2 separate regions of the Homo sapiens genome follow, and region 1 is linked to region 2. Evidence: fine-mapped expression QTL. A gene starts in region 2. The other region holds a variant in brackets. All regions are shown on one strand. Distances are between the middles of the regions. Region 1 overlaps SH3BP2 (SH3 domain binding protein 2). Region 2 holds the start of SH3BP2 (SH3 domain binding protein 2).

Region 1 (4,373 bases), 43 kb before region 2:
GTGTTAGGTTGTGCATTTATGTTTTATTCACTTTTCTGTATGTTGTTTTATTCTGCAGGAAATGAATGAAAAAGGGATTCTGCCTCAGCTCTGAGCCCCTCAGAGTGGGGCCAGGGAAGAAGCAGACGGCAACGCCAGGGCAGCTGTCTGGCAGCCTGGAAGGCCTGCGAAGCTTCCTAGGGGTCCGAAGGAGGGTAGACAGGTAGGGGTCTGCTCTGTACCCATCAAATCTCCCTCCAGTGAGAATGGCTGGAAGATGGCTTAAAAGGGTTCACCACTCACACACACTTCTGAGGTGGTGGGGGTTGTCTGTCAAGCATCTTCACAGGGTCACTGCCCCTCTTCCCCAAGGACAGGCAACCTCCTGGCACTGCCCCCTCAGCAGGCAGTCTAGGTGGAGGGAACAGGGCGTGCAGGCAGAGATAAGGCAGGGGGTGTGTGCGAGGTGCCCAGCGAGGGGCTTGATGCTGCTGGGTCACAGAAACAGAGGTTGTGGCCCTTCCCCCATTCCCCTCGTCTAGAGACAAGCACGGCCCTCCCATGTTCCTGGTGTGACCCTGGTGTCCTAGGCCATCCCTCCAGCGCCTGGATCACCCTCAAAAGCCTCTTCCCTGCTGAGCTTCAATCTGCCTTTCTATGAAATGGCCCCAATAAGCCCTGCCTGCCTCAGGGAACTAAGCCGCAGGTCCCAGGTCCCCCTCTCCCCCAATGCCCACCCTCGCCCATCCTGAGGTGCAGGAAGCACCTCCCTGGGGCTGCGCTGAGCCCCAACCAGCAGGGGAGCTCCGCACAACGTGGCCCAGAAGGATCAGTGGGAACCGAGGTTTCTTCTGGTTCTAAAAACATCTTTTCAAGGCTGGGCGCCGTGGCTCGCGCCTGTAATCCCAGCACTTGGGAGGCCAAGGTGGGCGGATCAGTTGAGGTCAGGAGTTCAAGACCAGCCTGGCCAACATGGTGAAACCCCGGTTCCACTAAAAATACAAAAATTTGGCAGGCAGCTGTAATCCCAGCTACATGGGAGGGTGAGGCAGGAGAATCGATTGAACCCTGGAGATTTGCATTGAGCCGAGATCACGCCAATCCACTCTAGCCTGGGCGACAGAGTGAGACTGTGTCCCAAAAAAAAAAGAAAAAATCTTTTCACAATACAAATCTTTATTAACTGAAGGCACGGGGCTCACCACAATCCTTCGGATGGAACCACAGGAAGAGAAGAAGCATGTTTCACCCTGGGCTGGGGGTGCTTCCCAAAGCCACTGGGGCCCTTTTCCCAAGCCCCAGAACTGAGCCCACCTGAACTCATCTTGAAGGTAGGTATGTCAGTGAGTCCTCCCAAAGCCTCAGTTTCCCTATCTATAAAATGAGGAAGCAGGACTGCCCCTAGGGCAAGGCCTAGGCCTCCTGCCAGCCCACCCTCACAGACCCAGAGGGCAACGCAGGGTGAGGCGGGGCAGTTTCACTCCCCAGTGCTGTGGCCCCCTTGGTTGAGTGAAAGCACCTCCAGAGCCCTAACCCTAGCCCTGGGAGCCAGGCAAGAGACCCCCACAACGACCATCAGAGGTCGTGAGGGGTGGCAGGGAGCCTGGCAGGGAGCCAGGCAGGGGCCAGGGTCTAGGCTCAGAGCAGTGAAGGATAGATAGGGTCACATGCCAGTTAGTGGCAGAGGTGGGACTTGAACCCAGGCCTCTGTGAGACTTGGTTCTCTCACCTGTAAAATGGGTCTACTAGCAGCTGCTTCTCCAAGCAAATGATGTCAAGCACCCAGCTCGGCACCTCACAGATGTGGTCAGTAAATGGTAATCCCAACCCTACCCTTATATGTGGACTAGAACACTTATGGCAAGTCTCGGGAGGTCATGGGAACTCCTCATGGCTCCTTCTTCATGCTGGAGGACCACGGCCTGCCCCATCCCACCCCAACACACTCTTGAAACTGAGGCCCTCGGCCTAGAGCAGCTCACACAGACGTGGACAGCTGTGCTAGCAGGTGCAGAGTCTGGGAGGCGAGGCTGGACCAGGGCCCCAGCTGGGCTTCGGGTAACCACAGGCCTCAACTGTCCAGTTGGCCAGAGGGACCTATCACCTGGCTCTGGGCCCCAGGATGCTTTAGCCACTTGAGCCGGCTCCAGGTGACCGTGTAAGTGA[C/G]ATAAAGCAAAGGTGTCCTGGACTGCACCACTCACTAGCTCAGCACCCCAGGCACCAGGCTGGAAACCACATCTCGCACCCAATTCTCCATTTAAAAATTTTACAGGAAGGGGCCAGGCACAGTGGCTCATGCCTGTAATCCCAGCACTTTGGGAGGCCAAGGTGGGCAGATCACCTGAGGTCAGGAGTTCGAGACCAGCCTGGCCAACATGATAAAATCCCGTCTCTACTAAAAATACAAAAAATTAGCCAGGCGTGGTGGCGGGCGCCTGGAATCCCAGCTACTCGGGAGGCTGAGGCAGGAAAATCGCTTGAACTAGAGAGGCGGAGGTGGCAGTGAGCGGAGATCACGGCATTGCACTCCAGCCTGGGCGACAGGGTGAGACTACATCTCAAAAACAAAAAACTAAAATAATAAAATTTTACAGGAAGAGAAACTATGGCCACAGTGGGGAGTGGCATGACTCCCTAAGCAAGTTCAGGTCAGACAGGGCAAAGAATTCTGACTGCAGGGAGGAGGAATGGCTGGTTTTCCAGAGATAGATCAGAACAACAGAAGCTCCCTGTGCTCCAGCCTCGGCTGTGGTGCACTGACCTCTCACCCCAGGCAGGCTGAAGAGGAAACCCCTGCAGAGGTGGCCTTGGACACCTGGTTCCTGGAAGCAGCTGGCTGCCGTCATCTGCAGGGCCTGCAGTTCCACCGCACCCTATGGCCCCCTGGGGTCACAGCCTCCCACATCCGCTAACCAGCCTCATCACTTGTTTCCGCCAGCAAACCACAGGTCCCCAGAACACACCCAGGGGAAGGGGGCTGCAGGACCTTCTCCCCCAGTCAGTCACTGTCAGTGGGCCCAAGTGCTGACCTCAGTTTAGGTTTCCCTGACATAAGGTGCTAAGAAAAATCACAAGGATTCTAGGGTCCCTGCCAGCCCCTACCTCCCTGAGTCTGTTTCATTAAAAATCCAGCCTGGAAGGTGTGCCAGGGAGAGTGACCTGCTGGAACTCCATGGCAGAAAGTAAGGGGATGGATTGGGGCTGGGCCTGAGCCAGGTATTGCCTGGAAGACTTGGGCATCTGGGTACCACCGTCCCTACGCACCCTTGGCCTGCTTAGGGTCCACTGTTCCCATCCCATCGTAGCTGTTACTTCCTCCAAAAAATCTTCCGGGAGCCCCCAGTCCCTGCACACCCAGCTGCCCTGGACACTGTGCCGTAAGCACCTCATACCCAGCTGTCCCCAGACTGGGCTGTGAACTCAGCCAGGCCAGAGGCCCCTGTCTGGAATGGGACCAGGCATGCAGGAGGTACCCAATAACTGCTCGCTAATGCAGGGAATGAAGCAGCTGTAGCTGCAGGGCCTTCTAGCTCTGTAGCCCGCTCAGTGTATGCAAGTTCTGGAACGGGGACAGCCACTCAGGAGGTACCCAGTAACCAGGCACTAATGCAGGGAATGAAGCAGCTGTAGCTGCAGGGCCTTCTAGCTCTGCAGCAGCACTGCCCTGGCCTGACCTGAGGCAGCAGAACTGGTGAGTGGGGTGTGGGCTCCCAGCCCAGACTGCCCAAGTTTGGGTCCTGATCTGTTACTCGCTGTGCACCCTGGGGAAGTCACTCAGTGACCTGCACCCTGGAAGACAAGACAACCAACTGTTGGGGTTCCCGGGTACTGCTGCGGTCACCACTTAGACATCAGCATGGGCACCCAGTAAGCTGGTAATCCCCTCCTTCCCAATCAAGCCCCAGCCACCAAGGCAAAGCTCACTGCTGCTTTATTGGAGGCAACAGCCCCTACTGGAGCCTGTGTCTTAGCGTTCCTGGGGGTCCCAGGGCCAGCCCCGGCCCCCACCCAGCTGCCCTGGCCCTGCCTGGCTCCCAGCCCACTTAGGGGTGAGTGTGATGGGGGGACCAGTGTTCCTGTCCTTGGAGCCCAGGCACAGCTTGGTCCTGGGTTTCTGGGATTGGGACAGGGCAAGTTAGTGTGGGGCAACAGAGTCCCTTCGTCCTCTGGAGCCTGGCGCCTGGTTCAGCCCTAGAACCCAACCTGCTGGATGAGACTGGCTGGGTCCTACGAGATGTCCATCACAGAGGCCCTAGGCAAGCACAGCCTTGCTCCTGCTCACCCTCCCATGTGGGCCCATGTCCGTCTGTGTGGCCTGGGGTCAGGGCCCCTGTGACTGCCTTGGCCTGGCAGCCACATGGACTGCCATCACCTAGGCCCAGTGTAGCCGTAGG
Region 2 (4,373 bases):
CTGCTTGTGTGCGTGCATCCCTGGGGGGTGGGGAGCTCCAGCTGACTCAGCACCCTGCTTCCTCTGTCCATGTGGGCAGAAAGGGCCAAGGCAGGCCCAGAGCCTGTCCTCCCTCTGTCTGCCTCTTCAGGCCAGCCTCCTTGGTGGGCTCCCCCATGATCCTGGAGGCCTGGGGACTCCCTGAAAGGCCAGGTCCCCTGTCAGCACCCCTCTCACCAGATGGCCCTGGCTGGCAGTTCCTAGACACGGCTGCCTATCTGTCTTCCTTCTGCCTGCCCCCTCCAGGGTGTGCCTAACGCAGGGCACAGAGCCAGGCAAAGGGAGCCTGGCGGGTGGCAGGGAGAGGGGATAGACAGAATCCTCACTCCCTTGCAGCCCTCGTCCCAGGCCTCCTGTCCTGCCAGGAGTGGAGTGCCTGGAGTGGGGCCCTGAGGTTGGGCTCCAAGAGGGCCCTTCGACGGTGTCTACGTAGAGGAGACAGTGGACAGAGTGGGAAGAACCAGGAGGGGGTGGAGCCCAGCCCCTCCTCTGGTCCCACAGGGCCTGAGCCAGTGAGGGCAGGAGCTTGTCCAGGCTCATGGAGTTGGTGCAGGGCTGACCTGAACCCAGAGGCTTGCTTCGGCAAGGAGGAGGCTGTGGGCCCTGCCTTCAGGCGGTTGTGGAAACAATTCTACACATTGCATCACCGGCCCATGTCACCTGCAAGGCCACACACATGTCATCCAGGCAGGCTGTCCACCCCAGCAGCCCACACGGAGTACCCGCCCCTGGCCACAGCCAATTCGAAGGACTTAAGTGTGGCCACTAGACCAGGAGGCACAGCTGTCCCCAGTGTCAACAGATGAGCAAACTGAGGCACAGAGAGGGGATAGGAGGTGCTCACGGAAAGGAGCACCAGCAGAAGGCTCCCCACAGCAGGGCTCAGGCCCTCAATACCCCCAGGGAGCCGAGGCCCAGAGCAGCGGGAAAGTGCTGGGCTGCAGGGAGGCCAGCGTACAGGTGGAAGGGGCTGTCCCCGCCCCCTAACTCCTCCAGTCCCTCTGCCACCCCTGAGATTCCCTGTTGCCCATGAGAGTCTCAGACGCCCGGCTATCAGTCACTCACACTTCAGTGTGAATCAGCGCCAGTGGGCGGCTTTTCTTGCCCTCCGTGAAGCGCGGCCGCTGCAGAGGGAAGTTTGGATTCCGGGAAGGGCGGAGAGCGAGTGCCCGCCGCAGCCTTTGAGTCTTGTGGGGAGGGTCGCGTAAAGGGGCCCCGCCGCGGGGCCAGAGGGGCGCGAGGGGTGCGAAACAGACGCGTCGCACCGCCTCCCACCCCTGAGCCCCCGGCAAGGGACACCCGGCCCCCGCCCCGAAGCCGCGCTCCCTCGGGCACTGCCCGCCGTGCCCAGGCCCCGTGCGTCCTTTGGCAAGGACACGGAGGCCCCGGGGCCCGGGGGAGGCTGCTGCGCACCCGAGACCCCCGACACCCGCCCATACCTGCCGGGACCCTGAGACTCCCCCGAGACCTGCCAAGACCTGCCGGGACCCCTGAGACTCCCCGGAGACTCCCCCGAGACCCCCGAGACCCGCCGAGACCTGTCGGGACCCCGAGACTCCCCCGAGACCCCCGAGACCCGCCGAGAGCCCCCAGACCGCCAAGGCCCGCCGAGCCCCTTCCAGACGCGGAGACCGCCCCCCCGCGAGACCCCCGAGACCCGCCGAGACCCGCCGCCGAGGCTTACCCGCCGAGCGCTCTCCTGGCCCGCGGGCCCTGGGTCGAGGCGGCGGCTTGACTCGGCCGCCAGGCGCTCCCGCCCGCGGGACCCGCCGCCGCCGCAGCTCCGTCCCGCCCGCGCCCGCCCAGTCCGCCCTCCTCCTGGCCCCGCCCCGGCCCCGCCCCTCCCCGGCGGGTCCCGCAATCCTGGAGGTCCGAGCTGGGCGTGGGGCGGGGCCGGTACCTCAGGGTGGGCGGGGAACTGCACGTGGCCTCCGCGGCCCCGGGACGAGGCCCCTGGGGGGCGAAGACTGGCGTTGTCGCGGGCCTAGACGCCGGGTCCACAGTAGGTGCTTAGTTCTCGCCCGTGAGTGAGGTAGCGTGTCTGTCCCTCCTGCGTGTCCCTCCCAGTGACACCCCAGTGCCCAGCGACCCAGGTGGAAAGGGCGCTGTCCACCCCCCCAGCCCCGTGGTCCTGATCCTGGGCGGCCCCACCCCTGCCCCGTGAGTGCGACTTAGGCCCTGGCCAAGACAGGAGCAGGGGAGGTGGGGGAGGGCTTGCTGGGCACCAGGAAACCTTGTCTTTGTTTCCAAATGTCCTCCAGGGTACTTTTCAGGCACTTCCCAGGGGGACCTCGCCTCTTGGACCAGGTCTGGACTCCGGTGGCCCAGAGGTCGTCTTGGGGCTGGGAGGCACAGGAGACCGGGTGCTTTACACTTGGCCTCCTCTGAGGCTCCCTTTCCTCCACCATCACCCTCTCCCTAAGAGTAGGCCCAGATGCCTTGGTGTAAGGGCAGGGGCGAGAAGAGGAGGGGCTTCCTGGGAGGAAATGGCTTCCCTGGGGAGCTCTCAGGGCCAGGTAGGTGGAGGGAGCCGTGGAGAAAGTGAAGAGGCTGGGGAGACCAAGCTGGGCCTGCAGAGCTTGAGGGCGAGCGGACCCCCCACCAGTGCGGGAGTCAACTGCTTGGGGCGTGGGGGGACTCCTCCCCATGAGGAGTGGGGACTGGACCCCAGGTCCCAGAGCCCAGGAAGCTGTGAGTAGAGGAAGGACAGGATCTTGCTGGGAACCCAAGGGAGCTGGGGGTGGGTGGTGGTGACCTGGCCCTGTCCAGGCAGGCGGCCAAGGTCTGACCCTCTGTACTGAGCACAAGAGGCCAGAGTCCAATGACAGGGGCTGAATTGGCTGCTCCAAATCAGGCAGGGGCAGGGGTGTCCAGGGCTGGCCCTGCAGCAGGTGAAGGACTGGGTTTGGGTCCTACAGGTTGAAATACCTGAGGGCCTCCAGGAGACACAGCCAAACCAAGCGGGTTCTCAGGGTTGCAGCTGGACCGAGTGTGGGCCAAGTCACCGTCCACCTGTCCCAGAGCTGCCCAATAATGGGTCCCAAGCCTCAGAAAGGGGATCCCTGGCTGCAATAGCCCTCCTCCCTGCTGGAGAGACACACTTGGGATCAGAGAGGTTAACTGGGGAGGGGAGTAAGTGGGAGGAGTCAGAAAACTAGGTGGCCAGGCCCTGAGCCCAGGCATAGAGGAAGAGCCAGTGCCTACCAGGAAGTGACCAGGACCAAGGCAGGGCCTCTGGAAGGGAAGGGACAAAGCAGGGGATGGCAGAGGCAGGGGAGGATATGGGAGAGTCTTCAGACAACAGGGCCCCTTTTCCCCATCTGTGAAATGGAGGGGGTCCTCTACTGGGGAGGCGGCAGAAGTGGATGGGGCATGACAGCAGGCAGATACTCACTCTACCTGGCCCAGGGCCACCCCTCACACCGGCGCTGGGGCTGTGACTCTACCCACCTACAGCCTAGCTCTCGGGGCTGAACTTAGACCCCAGTGAGGGAGTAGATGGGTGCTGGCTGGCTGGGGTGCTCACTCTCTGGGGTGCCTGCTCACATCCCCACCTGTAAGTGTCCTGGGCCTGGCTCCCCAGGTCTCAACTCTGCTCATCCCAGCATTGGGTAGCCTGCAACTCTTCTGCCCACCCCCCACTCTGGGCTATTTCACATTTTCCTAGCAGGGAGGAAGAGATAGGAACTACAGCCATTGTGGAAGTGGCTGGGCTCAGCCCCATCCGACGTTCAGTGCTGCCACTGTTAGCACCGCATGGGGCTGCGTCACTCCTGTAAGAGGCCACATGCGGAGGGAGCTCCAGGCTGGGCCAGACTGGTCTAAGGCTCCTGACAAAACACTCATGACCTTGGGGCTGTACATCTTGATGTCCCTGATGTCCAGTTCAGCTAAATAAATGCCTGGCCCCACACCAGACCCCGGGGACCCAAGATGATACAAGGAAGTCCCTACCCTTGTGGCTCACGAGAGGAGCAAATGGACAAATGAGCAGATGCCATTGGGTCACAGCAAGTGTCCTGTTCCCAGGGGACCAGCTGGGGAAAGGGGCAGAGACCGGGAGGGGAGTGGAGCAAAGCCAAACGTCGGTGCGGCCCCGCCAGGGCCTGACTACAGGGCAGGGTGTACAGGGCTGGCCTCAGATGCCAAGCTCAGAGTTGACGGAGCAGGGTCACTGCAGACAGTGTGGACGGACCAGGCGCCTAGAGAATGATCACCCAGAAATGCAAAGCACCTCTGTGCAGGGCACCTCAGCCAAACAGGGGGAACAGGGTGCAGCCTCCACCGTGGGGAGAATCCCACACCTCATATTCCTCCCCTTCTCCCCCCTTACC

What was found. PIP is the estimated chance that this variant, and not a neighbour inherited with it, causes the effect.
Region 1: its variant is the best candidate, but not a certain one, in a credible set for the expression of SH3BP2 in whole blood (TOPMed, PIP 0.61).

The regions. Positions count from the first base shown.
Region 1 is chr4:2,833,809-2,838,181 of GRCh38, reverse strand. SH3BP2 (SH3 domain binding protein 2) reads right to left here. Exons shown (of 13, transcript NM_001122681.2): 13 at 1-4,373. The coding sequence ends at 4,348. Among named protein-coding and RNA genes, the nearest start is that of ADD1, 7.8 kb to the left of the region's middle. RefSeq lists enhancers at 1-28, 1-978, 2,644-2,693, 2,954-3,033. The variant C/G (reference allele first, on the strand shown) is at 2,146.
Region 2 is chr4:2,790,489-2,794,861 of GRCh38, reverse strand. SH3BP2 (SH3 domain binding protein 2) reads right to left here and starts at 1,777. Exons shown (of 13, transcript NM_001122681.2): 1 at 1,724-1,777. RefSeq lists a silencer at 1,710-2,059.